2 separate regions of the Homo sapiens genome follow, and region 1 is linked to region 2. Evidence: fine-mapped expression QTL. A gene starts in region 2. The other region holds a variant in brackets. All regions are shown on one strand. Distances are between the middles of the regions. Region 1 has its middle 15 kb from the start of COMP. Region 2 holds the start of CERS1 (ceramide synthase 1).

Region 1 (2,898 bases), 90 kb before region 2:
CGGGCACAAGGGGAGACTCGGCTTCCCGTCTGGAACACAGGGCATTGCTGTAGAAGCGCATCCACGTTCAAGGTCAAGTGCAGCATCTACCTGCCTGCCAAGCCCTGGCCCAGGCAGTGGGGACCCATGAGGCGAGTCAAGGTTGGCCCCGGTCTGTAGGGCTCCCAGGCCAGAGATGGGGTTTCCCCATGCTGGTCATGCTGGTCTTGAACTCCTGACCTCAAGTGATCCACCCACCTTTGCCTCCCAAGTGCTGGGATTATGGGTGTGAGCCATTGCGCCCAGCCCCTTCCTTCATATTTACATAAAATACCCTTCTGTGACCCAGGACTTGGCTTAAATGTCAACACCTCAGGAGACCTTTCCCAACCCATGGGCAAAAATACCTACACCCAGGTATTTCTTTCAGACACTTCTCACTCTTGGAAATGATCTTCTCGGCTACATTTTCATGAGGTTGGGAACGTGGTTTATCCGCAGTTTGTGCCATTGTACCTGGCATATACTAGGTGAGATTGTCTCCTTGGGGACAAAGGAGGATGCTGGCTATCACAACAAAGTTTCACAAACATATACCCTCTGAGACCCCCAGACCTCCCCCAGCAGTGCCCCAGGATTTACAACCAGAACTTTATTTATTTATTTATTTATGAGCTGGAGTCTCGCTCTGTCGCCCAGGCTGAAGTGCAGTGGTGCAATCCCGGCTCACTGCAGCCTCGACCCCCTGGGCTTGGGTGATCTTTCCACCTCAGCCTCTCAAGTAGCTGGGACCATAGGCACATATCACCCTGTCCAGCTAATTTTTATATTTTGTAGAGACAAGGTCTTGCTGTGTTGCCCAGGCTGGTCTCAAACTCCTGGGCTCAAGTGATCCAACCACCTTGGCCTCTCTAAGTGCTAGGATTACAGGTGTGAGGTACCACACCTGGCCTACAACCCAGAAATTTGCCCTCAATAAATGGCAGAGTGAGGCTGGTCACAGTGGCACACATCTGTAATCCCAGCATTTTGGGAGGCCATGGTGGGAGGATCACTTAAGACCAGAAGTTCAAGACCAGCCTGGGCAACATGGTGAAACCCCCATCTCTACTAAAATACAAAAGAAATTAGCCAGGTGTGGCGGTGTGTGCCTGTAGTACCAGCTACTCGGGAGACTGAGGCAGGAGAATTTCTTGAACCTGGGAGGCAAAGATTGCAGTGAGCTGAGATTGCACCACTGCACTCCAGCCTGGGCGACAGAGCAAGACTCCTTCTCTAAAAAAAAAAAAAAAAAAAAAAAAAAAAAAAAAATAGGGCCGGGCGCGATGGCTCACGCCTGTAATCCCAGCACTTTGGGAGGCCAAGGTGGGCAGATCACAAGGTCAGGAGATCAAGACCCTCCTGGCTAACATGGTGAAACCCCGTCTCTACTAAAAATACAAAAAAATTAGC[C/T]GGGCGTGGTGGCAGGTGCCTGTAGTCCCAGCTACTTAGGAGGCTGAGGCAGGAGAATGGCGTGAACCTGGGAGGCGGAGCTTGCAATAAGCAGAGATTGTGCCACTGCACTCCAGCCTGGGCGACAGAGCAAGACTCCATTTCAAAATAAATACATAAATACATAAATAAATAATAGGCAGGCACAGTGACTCATGCCTATAATCCCAGCACTTTGGGAGTGCCGTGGTAGGAGGATCACTTGAGACCAGGAGTTCAAGGCCAGCCTGGATAACATTATGAGACCTCACCTCTTTTTTTTTTTTTTTTTTTTGAGACAAAGTCTCCCTCTGTTGCCCAGGCTGGAATGCAATGGCGTGGTCTTGGCTCATTGCAACCTCTGCCGCCTGGGTTCAATCGATTCTCCTGCCTCAGCCTCCTGAGTAGCTGGGATTACAGGTGCGCACCATGACGCCCAGGTAACTTTTGTATTTTTAGTAGAGACGGGGTTTCACCATGTTAGTCAGGCTGGTCTCGAACTCCTGACTTCATGATCTGCCTGCCTTGGCCTCCCAAAGTGCTGGGATTACAGGCGTGAGCCACAGCACCCGGCCGAGACCTCATCTCTTAAAAAAAAATTAGGCCAGGCATGGTAGCTCATGCTTGTAATCCCAGCACTTTGGGAGGCTGAGGTGGGGCTAAGGTCAGGAGTTCGTGACCAGCCTGGCCAATATGGTGAAACCCCGTTTCGGCTGGGCGCGGTGGCTCATGCCTGTAATCCCAGCACTTGGGAAGACAAAGGTGGGTGGATCACGAGGTCAGGAGATCGAGACCATCCTGCCCAACATGATGAAACCCCGTCTCTACTAAAAATGCAAAAATTAGCTGGGTGTGGTGGCACGTTCCTGTAATCCCAGCTAATCAGGAGGATGAGGCATGAGAATTGCTTGAACCCAGCAAGCGGAGGTTGCAGTGAGCCGAGATCGCGCCACTGCACTCCAGCCTGGTGACAGAGCGAGACTCTGTCTAAAAAAAAAAAGAAAAAAAGAAAAGAAACCCCGTTTCTACTAAGAATACAAAAATTAGCTGGATATGGTAGCAGGCACCTGTAATCCCAGCTACTTGGAAGGCTGAGGTAGGAGAATTGCTTGAACTCAGGAGGCGGAGGTTGCAGTGAGCTGAGATTGCACCATTGCACTACAGCCTGGGTGACAGAGCGAGACTCCGTCTCAAAAATAAATAAATAAAATTAAAAAACAATAATAAATAAAATAAATAAATGGCAGAGTGGTTTGAGTCATGCTGGAGGCGCACAGGCAGCTATGGAGGGTCAGCAGGAGGGACTGCTATGCTGCGACTGAAGGAGAGATGAGAATTGGCCTGGTAAGAGGCCACAGAGGGTGCTCGGGTGGGGGGACCAGCGTGTGTAAAGGCTTGGAGGCGACAGAGAACGATGGAGTGTTTCTGGAACTGTGTGTAGAGGGGCCC
Region 2 (2,881 bases):
ACCAGCTCCTGCCACAGCGACCCCTCCCCAGGGAAGTGAGTGGGGTCAGGCGCCAATGTCACCATCATGGTCACTCTCTCGCAGGGGCGATGGTCTCCGCAGAAACTGGGGAATTCTGCTGTCGCCTCTTGGAGGCAGCACAGTCCAACCCTGAAGCCCCGGGCCATGTCACCTCCAAGGGAGCGACCACTGGCGTGGCCAGAGCACCCAGGCCCTTGCCATCCCTGGTCGGAGGGTGGCGCTGACCCCAGATAGGCACAAGGCAGCGACCGGGCAGCTCCTGCCTCTTCCCGATTACAGCGGGCAAGCCGGCCCCGCCGCCGCACGGACCCAGCAGAAAACGGGCAGCGGACCTCGCTCCGGGCCGGGGCGCAGCCCGCATGGCAGGGAGGCGCATGGCGCAGGCCGCGGTGCGCCGAGCCCTCCCGTTCCCGGTCCTGGGCTTCTCAGTGTCTGGCTCGGCCCTGCCGGAAAGAGCGCGCGGTGGCCGGAGCCATCCACCGCGCGGGGCCCCCTGGTCCCAAACTGACCGGAAAGGGCCGTGCCTCGGTCCCCCACGTCTCAAACATCCCACCTGTCTCGGGCCCCCCATGTCCCAGACTCACCCCAGCCCGGCCACACCCCCGCATCTACCCGGTTCCCCCACGCAGCACTGTCTGAAGGGGGCGCGCGGCGGCCCGAGAGACCTTATCCTGGGGCTCCAACGTCCTGGGCCTCTCCAGCCCGAGGCCCCCACCCACGTTCCGGCGACCCCTTCATCCGCAGCAGCCAGCGCTGGAAGAAAGGAACGCGCCGGCGGCCCCAGGTCCCCGGTCCCGGCTTCCCCCAGTCCGGGGTCCCCTCGTCCCGGCCCCCGGCCACACTGACCCGAAAGAGGCGCGCAGTGGCCGCGGAGCGCAGGGCGGTCCAGCCCAGCGCGCCGAGCGCCAGCAGCAGCAGCTCGGGCGGCGCCAGGTGCGCGTGCTCAGCCAGGCCGCGACGCGCCAGCCCCCAGCCGCAGTCCGTGCAGCCCCGCGCCGCCGCCAGCGCGCTGCCCCAGCCGCGCTGCACTAGCTGCGCGTAGCTCGGCATGGGCTCGGGCCCCGTCGGCCCCGCCGCGGGCCCCGCCGCCGCCATACCGCCCGCTCGCCCGCCGTGCCCGTCGCCTGCGCCCGCCCGCGGTAGCCGACGGAGCCGCGCGCCCCGCGTCACGCGCCGCAGCTGGGCCGGGGGCGCGCGGGCGGGAGAGCGGAGGGCGGAGGGGCGGGACCGGCGCAAGCTCCGCCCCGCTGGGGGCGCGGCTGGGGGGCGGCCAGCGGGGACGCGGGGCGCCCTGGAGGCGGGCCCGCGCCCCTGCCCGTTTCCCAGCAGAGAAACCCAGGCGCGGGGGCCGGAGCTGGGGGCCCGTTGGACCTGGACCCCGAGAGACCCCGCGCACCGCCGTGTCGCGCCCCCATGCCTGCCCCGCGCGCCCCCCGCTCCCCCACCCCACCGCGCCGTGCCCGTGACGGGGGGCACGGGGGACACTAGCAGGCAGTCCCCTCGACTGGCGACCCCCGCTTCTCCCGGCCCTCCAGCACGCCACGCCGCTCCCGCTCCATCGCCCCGGCCCGCTCCGACCTCACCGTTCTTGGAGCCCTCGCTCCTTCTCAAGGACCCGAGGCCTGGCACGCCTTGGCACAGTCTTGGGACCATCCCGTGGCCCTCCCGCATTCAGGAGGCGTAGGCTCAATGAAACATTCTCATTCTTCAAAAGGACACGGCCCACGCCAGGGCGTTGGGAGGCGCACCTAGTGGAGACGCAGCTCTCTGCCCTACACCAGGAGCTTGGCAATGGGGTTCCAGCTTGGACGCGGGTACCCTGGGCACTTCCCAGGCATCTTCTTCTGCAGGTCTGCACAGCGGGCTACTGGGACAAAGGTGTGATGGGGGCTGCTGAGATTAGGGGGTTCTCTGAGGGTCACTTGCTGCTGTGACCCTGGGGAACCCGGGGGGGGGGCTCCCCAACATCAGGTTAATACATGAGTTGCAGAGAGGCTGCAGGAGTGGGTGCCAACGTGGGAGGGACTCCCAATCTGGATCGACTGTGACATCATTGGGACCACCATAAGTGACTTTCCAATGCACTGTTCATTGACAAGGCCCTGTGCCCAAAGCCACTGAAGGCCATCGAGGAAGACACTGGTCACCTCTGTTAGGACCGCCATCTCCCCAGGCACTGCTGCACCCCCCCTCCATCCTAGCCCGCAGGATGTCCCCACACCTGGCCTTCAAGGTGCAGGATGCAGGGATGAGTCCTGCAGCAGCCGCGCTGGCTCCCGAACACCTGCACCTGAACTTCAGGGGCACAGGTGAACACACCTTCCCCTTGCCCCACACCGAGTCCCCCACAACACATCCAGGTGGCCCTGCATCTGGCCACTTCTCTGCATCTGCACAGCCTTGCCCCCCGCTCCCCGCCACCACCACCACTACCACCACTACCCTCTTCCGTCTGGTATCCTGGCTTCCTCCTCACCCCACAGAGGTGAGAAGGTGGCTGCGACGCTGTTGGCCTGTTCCTCGTCTGCTTGCAGCCCTCTATGGCTCCTGTTCCACTCAGGGAAAGCCCAAGTCCTCACTGGCTGCCCTCACAGCGCCCTGTTTCCCTCCGCCTGTGGGCTTTTCTGCTGTTCTTCCAACATGCCAAGCTCTGTCCTGCCTCAGGGCCTTTGCACTAGCTGTTCCCCCCTCCTGAAATGCTGTTCCCCTAGGTACCTGCATGGCTCTTCTGCCACCTGCTCAGGCTGCCCCCGACTCTGAAGTCACACGCCCCTCATGTCTTCATGTCTGCTTGGCACTTGTCACCATCTGCCCCTACATACATACAGCTCATTTTTTTTTTTGAGTTGGAGTCTTGCTC

The links. PIP is the estimated chance that this variant, and not a neighbour inherited with it, causes the effect.
Region 1: its variant is fine-mapped to the expression of CERS1 in cerebellar hemisphere (GTEx, PIP 0.98).

Annotation. Positions count from the first base shown.
Region 1 is chr19:18,804,728-18,807,625 of GRCh38, forward strand. No RefSeq gene overlaps it. Among named protein-coding and RNA genes, the nearest start is that of COMP, 15 kb to the left of the region's middle. RefSeq lists a silencer at 1,453-1,747. The variant C/T (reference allele first, on the strand shown) is at 1,432.
Region 2 is chr19:18,894,957-18,897,837 of GRCh38, forward strand. CERS1 (ceramide synthase 1) reads right to left here and starts at 1,202. Exons shown (of 8, transcript NM_021267.5): 1 at 868-1,202. The coding sequence starts at 1,116. It overlaps GDF1 (growth differentiation factor 1), which reads right to left and starts at 1,202. Exons shown (of 8, transcript NM_001492.6): 1 at 868-1,202. RefSeq lists a silencer at 203-252.